2 linked regions of the Homo sapiens genome follow. The main gene of each other region encodes a partner of the protein of the gene in region 2 in a complex. Each region holds a gene or a part of one and is shown on either strand. Other genes may lie near its edges.

What was found.
Region 1: LIN7C (region 2) and CASK share a complex: the UniProt entries of both Homo sapiens proteins name them as parts of the brain-specific heterotrimeric complex.

Annotation. Positions count from the first base shown.
Region 1 is NC_000023.11:41,913,320-41,921,533, forward strand, and holds part of CASK (peripheral plasma membrane protein CASK), read right to left. Parts: intron 1-8,214. UniProt on the Homo sapiens protein: Multidomain scaffolding Mg(2+)-independent protein kinase that catalyzes the phosphotransfer from ATP to proteins such as NRXN1, and plays a role in synaptic transmembrane protein anchoring and ion channel trafficking.
Region 2 is NC_000011.10:27,492,458-27,497,097, reverse strand, and holds the end of LIN7C (protein lin-7 homolog C), read left to right. Parts: 3' UTR 1-2,680; downstream 2,681-4,640. UniProt on the Homo sapiens protein: Plays a role in establishing and maintaining the asymmetric distribution of channels and receptors at the plasma membrane of polarized cells.

The sequences.
Region 1 (8,214 bases), on a different chromosome or scaffold from region 2:
CACATGTACCCTAAAACTTAAAGTATAATAATAATAAAATTTAAAAAATAATAATAATGACAATGGCAATTAAAATAACAACCTTTAGACATTTCACATAGATCATGCTATTCAATCCTCACAACAACCTTACAAAGTATATACCATTAACCACATTTTACAGATAAAGAAACTGAGGGTCAGAGAGGCTAACTAACTTGCCCAGGACCTCATAGCTAGAAATGAATACATAAATGAACAATGAATAAAAGTTAGCACCACTAACAATTTTACACACATGGTAGAAAAGAATGTTCATTTCACCATATTATTTATGTAATAGAGCCTGTGTTTAGCACTGAGAATGTGCACATTTGGAAATTGTTGAAACTTACGTACATAACTGCCAAAAGTAATTTGAGTATCTCAGAGACATTCTAGAAATAAAAAATACTTATGCTGCACTTTACAATTCACTAATCCACACAAATGGTTTGTGAAGCAGCTATCATTCCTTTTATAAATAAGGAGAAAATAGCCACACTGTGCCCAAAGGTTACCAGATCAGAAGGGGGCTGCCTAACAAGCCACAGAGCAACCGCATTCCATACCTTTAGGGGAAATCACATACCAAGGGTAAGAAAGAAGGCCAAGAATTGATGATGTTTTCTAAAAACACAAATTAGAATCTATGAAATAGCAGTAGTATAATGGTAATCTGCACACCATGGAAGGACTAGAGAGAGAGACCTCTGTAACTGAATGAATATCATCATCCTTTAATTTAAGAAAACATTAAAATCTGCATGTAGTTGAATGGTAATACAGTGTACTTCTATCCTAGATTTAAATATACCAAAATACTCTAACTTAAGTGTTAAAAGCCTGAAATACAGACTGAACATAGTATATTTTGGATATTATTAAACTACATGAGAGACAGAACAATCCACATTCTTACCTGCAAATGATTCAAATACTCAAAACAATGATTACAAAGCAAAAAGGAAAGAAAGTATATTAAAAGAAATCACAAAGATTGGGAGAAAAAACAATGTACAACAGCCCAGTAATAAATAGAATACAAGAAGCTGAAGTGAAATAGCACGCACTTAGATACCAAAAAACTGGCTTATGTACAACGAAGCAATCGTTTCTTATTGTGAATGGATGTGGACAACCAAAAATAGCCAATGAACAAATTTAGTTAGGAGGTGATGGGAGAAGAAATGTGAAAGAGGAGGACAGTACTACATTCATCCAACGTGGACAAAAATCCTTGAGGCTAGAAAGAATTCAGTTTCCTATAGTAGAAAGATATAAGACAATAACAGTGGTTTGACACATACCAAGAACTTAAAGTAAATGTAAAGTATCTAAAACTTACTTTGTCACTTCATGAAAGGCTTCCATTTAATTGACAGTCATGCACAAGCTCGGGAATGAAAAGGACATAATCTTAGGAAAACCAAATGATTTTACCTAAAAGCCAGTCATCAGAAATCTGCAAAACACAATTAGAGTGAAAAAGAAATCTACTTTGTTTTTACCCTAAATATGTTGGTTCTGAGATAGATTTACAGAGAGATAGTATAAAATTACTAGTATCCACAGAAAAGAAGCCAGACCTAGCTTTTCAGACACATCATGAATTGACTATTAAACATAATATTCATTTTGATAAGTGCTTTAAATTGTTTCTCTGTTATAGCCACATGTGTTCTTAGTCCTCAGAGTATATTGGCATTTTACATTATTGATCCTCCCCCCTCTTTTAAACTTCTGTGCAGCCCATTATCCTGATTCTTCTAACTCTATGAGTTATACTCCAAACCACGAGCCCTAGAGCAGTCAACCCCCAAGAACTTGTTCACTCAGTTTTACTTCCACACAGATGACTCCCAAATCTTCACTGCCATTCCATACCTCTCACCCAAATTCCAGCTCAGCATTTCAAGCAATGTAAAATTACAATTGGCTTGCACTCAATCCAAAGCCAAAGTAACAATCCATATGACAGAATACTGGGCAGCAGCTAAAGAGGAGATAGAGACAGACAGATACATTGATGGATATGACAAGATCATCAAGTATATACTATTATTCATGAAAAATCAATATTTCAGCATAGTATACAAATATCTCACTTTTAAACAAAAAGCTTCCAGAAAGATGGAGAAGAAACTGAACAATGGTTACCTCTAGAGAATGGGGATATGGATGGTAGGAGAATTGAGACAGACTCACTACTTATCTTTGTATCACCTATATTTTAAATTGTATGGCTGGGCACAGTGGCTCACGCCTGTAATCCCAGCACTTTGGGAGACCAAGGCAGGTGGATCACCTGACGTCAGGAGTTCGAGACCAGCCTGGTGAAACCCCGTCTCTACTAAAAATAAAAAACTAGGCTGGACGCGGTGGCTCACGCCTGTAATCCCAGCACTTTGGGAGGCCAAGGCGGGTGGATCACGAGGTCAGGAGATCAAGACCATCCTGGCTTACATGGTGAAACCCCATCTCTACTAGAAATACAAAAAAAAAAAAAAAAATTAGCCGGGCGTCTGTAGTCCCAGCTACTCGGGAGGCTGAGGCAGGAGAATGGCGTGAACCTGGGAGGCGGAGCTTGCAGTAAGCCGAGATCGCGCCATTGCACTCCAGCCTGGGCGACAGAGTGAGACTCCGTCTCAAAACACACACACACACACACACACACACGCACACACAAATTAGCCAGGCGCGGTGGTGCATGCTTGTAATCCCAGCTTGTTGGGAGGCTGAGGCAAGAGAATCACTTGAACCCAGGAGGCGGAGGTTGTAGTGAGCCAAGATCGTGCCACTGCACTCCAGCCTGGGAGACAGAGCGAGACTCCATCTCAAAAAAAGAAAATAAAATTTACTACGTGCATCATTACTTTTATAATTTACTGTATAAAAACTAATTAATAAAGAAAAGTAACACAAAATTATTAAATCTCAATGTTGGAAATAAACATTAACTTCAAAACAAACTAGCTTCGGAAATGAAATTTTCCCAGGGTAGAAGTCAGAGACTCTATACTGACTTGGGCTCTACAACCAATACCATAGTGGCTCCAGGACAGAAAGGAAGGAGAGCAAGTTCTGTAGCATCTTAAATCCCACAGCATAAATCCAGAGCCATATTTGGTGCTTCTAGAATCTTCACTGTCAGTTGCAACTAAAAAATAAAACCAAAAAATGTGAGAACAGCACATCCCATCAGCTTGTTGGCTGGGGTCCGGTACCTGCTCTGCAATAGTTAACTCAGTCTCTTGATTATTTAAGGTGTACAGTGCTGGCAAACAGCTAGAAGCTCACAGACTCAGCGGCTGCAGCTCACTACACGGTTTTCAGAATCAGAGAGAACAATCTCCGTATTTTTATCACAGGATAAAGGAATAACTATCCTTTGGAAACCACTCCACCCCACTTCCAACAAACATCTACCTCTGAAACCTTATTACTTCTGGTTTGGCAAGTTAGGGGTAATTAATCAACTATCCTGTCTGTTGGGGCAAGGGAAATGGAAGAAAAAATTTGGAGAGTAAAAGAAGTAGAGAAAGTTCCAAAACAAATTATATTTTGGACAGATGGCCAAGAGTCTATATTTCCATTGCTAGATTTACCAGTTAGTTTGGTAACAAATGCTGATGTTTCATTAAAGAGAAAGACAAAAATAAAAAAGAAACAGATGAAAGAATGAATAGTATATGGAACCTCTACTGAAGAAATAAGAAATTTAACCAGAAAGTCAAACAACTAAAATTTGCAGTATAGAAACTCTGAAAATGAAGACGTGTCTTTAAGAAAATCCAACACAGTATTTTCACAACTTGAATTAGCAGCAGAATGCAGCATGAAATGAACAGACTTTAAAACCATGGAACCGCGTTGGAATCTGTGTGATCTTAGGCGAATTACTGATCACCCCCTCTGAATCTCAGTGTTCTCTGTAAAATGGGTATGATTAAATAATACATCCAAAATGCCTAACATTAGAGGGATAAATGTCAATCCCTTTATAAAGTAAGCTTTAAGTTATAGAAGTTTTTTAAACAACCTTATGTCAAAGTTCCTTTAAATGCAGTGCTCCTACCACATTTAAAATGTGAAAACGTTTAAGAAAATGTAATAATTCAAGAATAATCTCAAGAAGCAAGGTATATCTGCTCCTTCAATTTATTGAGTAGAACTACAGCTGGAGACAGAATTTTCAGTTTAAAGGAAATATCCAGGTACACAATTTAGGGACACTTGAGACGTAGTTCATCAGGTGAAACTGTTGCAGATACAAGGAAAAAATGGAGAGAGCTGAACTGCGTATGTCAAGTACATAGAAGCGTGTTACGGACATAAAAATTAAGGGAGTCCACAGGAAGTATTTATGAAGACAACTTCAAACAACACACCCTAAAGCAATCTGTAAAAAGCAGACAGGAAGAGACTAGAGAAGGTTGTATACATGCAGAAAAGCAACGGAGTAGCTCTGTTCTCCCTCCAAATGATCCTAGGATCATCAGGAATCAATATTGCTTCCCCACTCCCATTGAGGCCTGCTATCTGTAGCATCCACACCCTGAGTTCAAAAGGATTTTCCTCTGTAGAAGTACAGCTTAACTCCCATGGCTTGCATTCTTTCTGGGCCACCAACAATTTAGCTGCTGATCACTTCTTTTACCTTGTTACTTGGCTGTCACTGTGATCATGCACTGCTTTCACGATCACTGGTATTTCTGGAATATCTACTCATTTCTGGAAAATTCTCGGTTCCTTCAGGCAAACACTTGATCTTTTCCTAACATTAAAAACTAGTTTACCTACAAAGTCTAGTTAAAATTTCCGGGAAACATTTTTTCAACACAATGCGAAATTCTCCCTATGGTACTAGAAACCCAAATCACTGCATGAATCAATACATGTGAAAGTCATAGTAATTAGTACAAATTAGTAAAGCTGAATTTTTCTGTATGCTGAATTATATACTTTACGTATTATTAATCCAGTATTTACATAAAGGCTGCATTAACTCAATTCTCCAGCTAACAGCATTACTGGAATCACAAGTATGTAATTTAAAGCATACAAGCAACTTAACCATACTCTTTTAATAGAGTGTATGTACAAACACAATCCATACTAAACTGATAAATTTCTTCATATTAAATCAAGCCATTATAGTGGAAAACCATCATCAACTGTTATTGAAGCAATCCTTGTTCTGTGTTGTTCCAAACGTCAGACAATCGCCATGTTAGCATTAGATGAGTGTCATAAATCAATGTGGATCTTAAAAGGCCCAAGAAATCAAAGCCAAACACAAGCTAAAACTAAATTTTTACACAATAAGGCTGAGAAACACAAGTGCATAGAAGATAAAATCCATGTTTTAGCCATTTAGCTTCAATACCTTCCAAAAAGAATTTATTCTACTTTGTAAGAATTGTAAGCCTCTGAAAAGCCAGTCCCAAAATATTACATACATAATCTAAGTTTTAAGCCAATGATTCCTCATTATAGCTGCATATTAGAATCACACAGAGAGCTTTAAAAAAATGTCAGTGACCAGGACCCAGTCCCAGAAACTCGGACTTCACTGCTTTGACACAGGGCTCTGGCGTTGATCTTTTTTAAAAGCTCCCCGGATGATTCTAATATGCAGCCAGGTGGAGAACCACTACTTTAAACTAATGCAGGCTCTTCGGACAATAATTGCTCTGAGGTTGACAAACATGCTTTTTTGCCTTTTAATGAGATTTTATTAAAACTACTCAATTCATTCCACAGCTAATGAAAGGCAGTTACATTGCACGCACTGTGTTAATGGAGAAAGATGTGTAAGAAACATTCCCTGCCCTCAGGAAGCTCCTTATTAGTGAACTAGAGAGATCCATAAATAAGTAACTGTAATTAAATAAAAGTGCTCTCGAGGAGTAAGCAAATACAGCATGCCTCACAAAGTTGCACGTCATCCTTAAGCAAGGGTCATGCTGCATCATTCCAATTTTAGTGTATGTCCTACCAGAGCAGGAAAGTCTGAAGCTACAGGCTACTAAACAGGGCAAGTATTCACCTAACACAAGGTAAAAATGGTATGTATTTTGTTATTCCCTTTCATACACACTGCTGTACCAAGAAAGTAGGCATTTTTCTATGTTTTAATTTCGATGAATTGTCTTAAATTTCCTTCATGTAGTATTACCGGTTGTACACTTACTTATAATTGTAAAAGATACAGTAAATGATCATGACATAAAAATTAGTCATTAACCTCATTTGCATAACGCCCTTCCTTTCCAGTAATCGCTACATTTGCTAAGACAAGAAGTTTTGGGACTATGATAAGGTCTTATTATTGGAGATTTGTTTCAGTCATTTAAAAGATAGTTACATAGAAAATGTTATAGAACCAACAGTCACTCAAAGGAGTTTCTGCAAGATTTTCAAAAATGAGAAACACAGGGAAAAGAGTTTTAATTTTTAAAAAGGGAAACGGCATCCTTCCAATATTTGTAACAAATTGGGCACATGTTCCCTCAAAGACAGCTTTAACAAGGGTAAAGGCTGCAACCACTGGAAAGAAAACATATTCCAAATAATGATCTTATATTTCAAAACCTCATTAACTCTGTAAGTTATCTTTCTCAACCAAGGGGGAAAAAAACACACTGAAGGGTCTAAATTAAACGAGAACTTTCATTTATGCCATCAAGTAAGGCCAAGTACACAGTGGGTGAGTGAGTAGGTGGTTGCGTAGGTAGAGGAGTGAGTGGGTAGTCAATTAGTCTTGAAAAGTGAAATCTATTTTAAAGTACCTTAGTAAAAATTAAAACCTATTAAGATCTAGTGGTGAAAAACAACTTGTGATACTAATTTGGTAAAAAAGAAAATCAAAATTCCATAGAACTTGGATAGAAATCAATAAAAAGGTTTTCAGTACATGTGAATATCTTCAAGGGCTTTCTGTTCAAATTCAGAGGTGAACAAATTATAAGTTAAAAATGTATGCTGTCAAGGTCCCTGCAAGAAAATCTCAAGCTAATTTCAATTTCCAGATCAATATATACTAAGACAATTTACTAGAGAAACCTTCAACCTTTACTCAGATTGAGGAACACTATTATTACATTCTTTAACAATAAGGCTAGCTTGAATTCATTATTTCACATAATGGCATTTTATAATTGGCACTGACCAAGTCAGATTTTGTAGGATATGAATGAGATTTCACAGTTCATAGTAGTTAAGGTAGCCATAGAGTACCTATCACCTCAAAATTAGCTTGCTGCCCCTCTTTATGCAGCTCTGAAACAGTCAGAAAAGATGAATTTTTTTCTCCCAGGGGTGTTTCCTGAAAAATATTCTATCAATTACAAATCAGCAGAATATGGACTGTGTTAATGTGATTCTGACCATTTCTTTTTGATATCCAAAGAGATCACATCATCACCCTTCCAGACTTTAAGGAATCAGAACTAGTTACCAAAACTGATTCAGAGATGGCTATTTTACATCTTCACAATATAATTAACATTTTAATCTCACATTTTCCAATTATGACTTTGTTAGTTCATTTACATCAGCTATAACTAAGATGCAACAAACATCATTCACCCACACATACAGTCATTTGGAGGCTTTTGGGAAACACCTAATTTATCTTCACTGGGTGCTCCTAAGAATGAGGAAACCAAGGAGATTTTTGATGCATTTTTCTCTCTAGAACTGTGCTATTCACATGTGGCTACTGGGCACCTGAAACGTGGCTGGTCCGACTGGGAAACTGAATTTTGAATTGTATTTAATTTTAATTAATTAAAATTTAAATTTAGAAAAAGGTACTTGATTCGGTTATTGGAAAACTTTTATGTATATTGGGAACAACTTGGGTATGTGAATATACTTTTGCAAACGCAAATTTTATGAAACCTAAATACAGATTAAGTATTTCTGATTTTCATCAGAAATGTAGCTTAGTGTCAGAATTGAGATGTGCTATTAGTGTAAAATACACATTGGGATTTCAAAGACTTAGCATAAAAGATGTAAAATATTTCATTAATATTTTTTCATATTGATTACATGTTGAAATGTTAAGTTTGGATCTACAGGGTTAAATAAAATATTTTATTAAAATTAATTGCACCTGTATGTTTTTATTAAATGTGGCTACTAGAAAATTTTAAATTACAAATGTGGCTCATAATATATCTTTTG
Region 2 (4,640 bases):
ATGGTTGAATGTGTCTTTAATCCACTACAAAATGTGCTTGTTATTGATAGGATCATGTTGTTAAATTGTAAATTTTCAAAATTAATTGATGTTTTAAAAATGTTGAGACCAAAGTAGTATAGAAGTATGGACTTAATTTAATTGTAAAATTATTAGAGGTATTTGTTGTAGAGCTTTATATATTAAAGAGAGGTATTGGTGCATATAAAAACAGTAATATTATTGTTATGCTTGTATTCTTGCATTTCAGGGTAAGTAAACCCTGAAGAAATCTTATTTTAGTATAGCTACAGCTGCAGTAGCTTTTAAGTATGTATCAACATTTCATTATAAATTATAGCTTCCTGGTTCTGTGTCTCAGCTGTTTCAGAACTTTCAGCCAAGTTAAATCTTTTTTGGTGTTGAAACTTTTAGTAAGTTGAGTAAGCTATTTTTTTCCCTACGGTAATCCACAATCTGTTCTTTGTGTGGGTTGACACCTATTTATAATTCTTAAAATAAGGGTAGCTCAAAGGAGCCAAGTACAGTAGTTTAGCTTGCTACTGTTGAGCATGAATAGCAGTAGGTTGTTTTCATTAATGCAGTTTTCATAATGTATCCCAGAATTTTAAATCTTGACCATAGAAAAATACAGTCATTCATTGGCAAAGATGTACAGTGGTGGTTTAGTGCAGTGAGGAAATGATGGGAATTTTTATCTTAGAAATGGATGATTCGTGAATAAAACTAGGTACATAGTAAGTGTATGATAGATGTTTGATTTGTAAATTACAAATATAAATTATCACCCCCATTTCCATTTATTTTCTTGATATATCAAAATGTGTTGACTTAGTGATTCTCAATCTTAGCTACATATTAGCCTGGCAGAGCTTTAAAAAATTGATACCTGGGTCCTATTCCATAACAACTAAATCAAAATCACCCTTTTTTTTTTTTTTGTAAAGCTTTCCAGGTGGTTCTAAAGGACACCTAGGGTCAATAACCCATTATAAAATGATCTGATTACACTGGACACTCTTAGGAAGTATCAAAATAGAACAGTTCAATTTGCAGCTACTTAATGATTAATTACATTTCTTAGGTTTTTTTTTTGTTTTTTTTTTGGTTTGTTTGTTTTTTGTTTTAAAAGAGACAGGATCTTGCTTTGTCTCCCAGGCTGGAACACAGTGGTGTGATCATAGCTCACTGCAGCCTGAAACTCCTTGGCTTCCACCTCAGCCTCCCAAAGCATTAGGATTATAGGCGTGAGCCACTGCACCTGGCCAAGTAATTTCTTTTAGGAATAAAAGGTACTTGGCATTCCTTATTTGGGAAGTAATTACAGTCTTATCTTTTTTTTTCTTTTTTCTTTTTTTTAATAAAATCTACCAGTAATTTAAATGTGAGCTTTTTATGTCTGTCATCATTCTGCCCCCTTTGCCTTTAAAACTTACAAAAATACGTGTTTGTTATTTGAGAAAGCATGTTTAAAAATTGCAGATGAGAAATATTGTCGTTAATAATTATGTACTGTCTTAATGTGGGCACTTCATTTGTTAGTATAATACTAGATAATAGCAGCCTAGTTCTTTAGGATTTGACGATTCAAATTTTTTTTTTGTTTTTTGTTTTTGTTTTTTTTTGAGACAGAGTCTTGCTCTGTTGCCCAGGCTGGCGTGCAGTGGTGTGATCTCGGCTCACTTCAGCCTCCGCCACCTCAAGGCAGTTCAAGCAATTCTCCTGCCTCAGCCTCCCGAGTAGCTAGGACTACAGGCGTGTGCCACCTCTCCCGGCTAATTTTTTTGTATTTTTAGTAGAGACGGGGTTTCACCGTGTTAGCCAGGATGATCTCGATCTCCTGACCTCGTGATTCGCCCGCCTCGGCCTCCCAAAGTGCTGGAATTACTGGCGTGAGCCACCATGCCCAGCCTCAAATATGTTTTTAAAAAATATCATTGTCCTCCTCCTCTTAAGATTTTTTTAAGTTATTTTGCTCAAGTACTTAAGTAGTCTGGCTCAAGTACTTTGTTTACAATTAAAATGGATATTATAGCATTTAATAGAAGAAATGGTTATGGCTTATCCAAAAAGAATGTCAGCATGACCTGGTGTAGACTTAAAAAACTACATGTTTGTGAATATTTTATAATGTGGAATGATCATTGAAATATCAAGGATTCTAGTAATTGTATTTCCTGAATAAATGTATGTTTATGAATTTTCTAACTTACATTTTGTTGTGTCCTCTGCCAACAATCTGGTTTTATAATTGTTGTCTAAAGTTTGCTAGTAGTGTTTCTTCAAAGGTTATTCCAGGTATGGTTAAGTAGTGAGAAAAATCACTTATTAATTTTCAAGAACTTTGAGACTAATTTGTATTGACTCGGTTTTTTAAAATAACTGGCAAATGCTATGCTTCTACTTTTAAAATTTGTGGTAATACCCAGAATGGATGTAAAATAACATTTTTCAATAGATTACTTCATTTATCAATTTAATTCTGATTTTAAGGCTTATTTAAAATAAATTTGTATGAGTTATGTCCTCGTTCTTTGGATTTGAAAAAAGTTGATATAACTACACAATAGATAACGTTTATGAAAGGTATGTATAAAAAAACATAATTCCTGGTGGCTGCTGAAATGAAACTTTGAATTTCTATATTTTGCTTTGTCTTTCATAAAATTTAAAGAAAACATTTTCTTGTGTTATTTCAAGAGCGGCAGTATGACGTGATTGAGAGCACAGATTCTGAAGCCAAACAACTCTGGTTTCAATCCCAGTTCCACCATTACCGTGTGTCACCTTAGACAGGTTGCTTGATTTCTTTGTGCCTTAGTTCCCTCACCTGTCATTTGTTAATAAGAATGCCTGTAAGTGTCATGCCATTTTCTGTAAGGCCCTTAAAAAGGTGCCTGGCATAGTAAATACTGTTTGTGTTTGCTTTTGTTCATGTAAAATAGCTTCAGAACCTTATGAGCTAAAGGAAATAATTCTGGTCAAAAAATTAAAATTAGCAAGTTTTTATTTTTGGTATTTAGAAAACAACCTTTATGCTTAAAAACTTTAGAAGAATAAGATTCATAAGAAATTATCAAATTTATATTTTGATCAAAGAAACTCGGAATTTTTAAATTGGAGCTTTGAGGATTGAAGCCATATTCTAATGAAAATCATTGGAAAATAAGTCCAAGTAAGGATTTGTTAAATTAACCTTTAAGGTGATGACCTAGGCATAGAGACAGGAGACTACTGGACTAGGTGTTAGACAGTCCAAGGCATCACCACCATTAACTTTAAAAAAGTGTGGAAATGTGCCACACAGCCGAGGAACAACAAAAAGCATTTAGTGTTAGGACTCAGTTTTTTTCAAAACTTTAGTAGACCAGAGTATCCATTCACTAAATTTTTCTATTCGGGTTTTGTTATATTCACTATTTTGATTATTCTGATTTTACTATAATGAATTGCTGACCCATATTTTGTACGTTTACTTATTAGTGGCAGATAATCTCCCTGATGGAATCTTGAAGATTTACTTTATATACAGGGCAAAAGGTAAATTCATACAGAACCCATTTGTCAATTTTATTTTTTGAATTTTAAATTTTAAAGGGACAAATACTTCATTTTAACAAGGTATATGTAAGGCCTCTCCTAATTCTCATGAACAATACCTATTGGTTAGAATGAGAAATCATCCACACTTTCTTACCTAGAGACAACTTTAAAAACACCAAATCTTTTTTTTTTTTTTTGAGACAGGGTCTATTTGGACACCACAGTATGTATATTTAAAATCACCAAACATCAAGATTTGGTGTTTTGGGGCCAGGTGCAGTGGCTCACACCTGTAATCCCAGCACTCTGGGAGGCCTGTAATCCCAGCACTCTGGGAGGCCGAGGCAGGTGGATCGCTTGAGCCCAGGAGTTTGAGACCAGCCTGGGCAACATGGCAAAACCCCGTCTCTACTAAAAATACAAAAATTGAGGCCCAGCATAGTGGCGCACACCTATAAATCCCAGCACTTTGGGAGGCCGAGGAGGGTGGATCGCTTGAGGGCAGGAGTTCAAGACCAGCCTGGCCAACATGGCGAAACCTCATCTCTACTAAAAATACAAAAATTAGCGGTGCATGGTGGCATGTTCCTGTAATCCCAGCTACTTGGGAGGCTGAGGCAGGAGAATTGCTTGAACCCAGGAGCCAGAGGTTGCAGTGAGCTAAGATTTCACCACTGCACTCCAGCCTAGGTGACAGAATGAGACTCTTGTCTCAATCAATCAGTCAATAAATAAAAGTACAAAAATTAGCTGGGTGTGGTGGCACGTCCCTGTAGTCCTAGCTACTGGGGAAGCTGAGGCTTTCATGAGAATTGCTTGAGCCCCGGAGGCAGAGATTGCACTGAACCGAGATAGCATCACTACACTCCAGCCTGTGCAACAGAGTGAGACCCCCATCTCAAAAAAAAAAAAAAAAAAAAAGATTTGGTGTTTTTAAAGTTTGTCTCTAGGTAAGAAAGTGTGGATGATTTCTCATTCTAACCAATAGGGATAGAAATTTTAGCCCCTGCAGCAGGTAAGTTTCCTGTATATGGCAGTTACTGAAAGTAATTCATTTCATCAGAGGGTATTAAAAACCCAAAACTAATTTTGTGTTT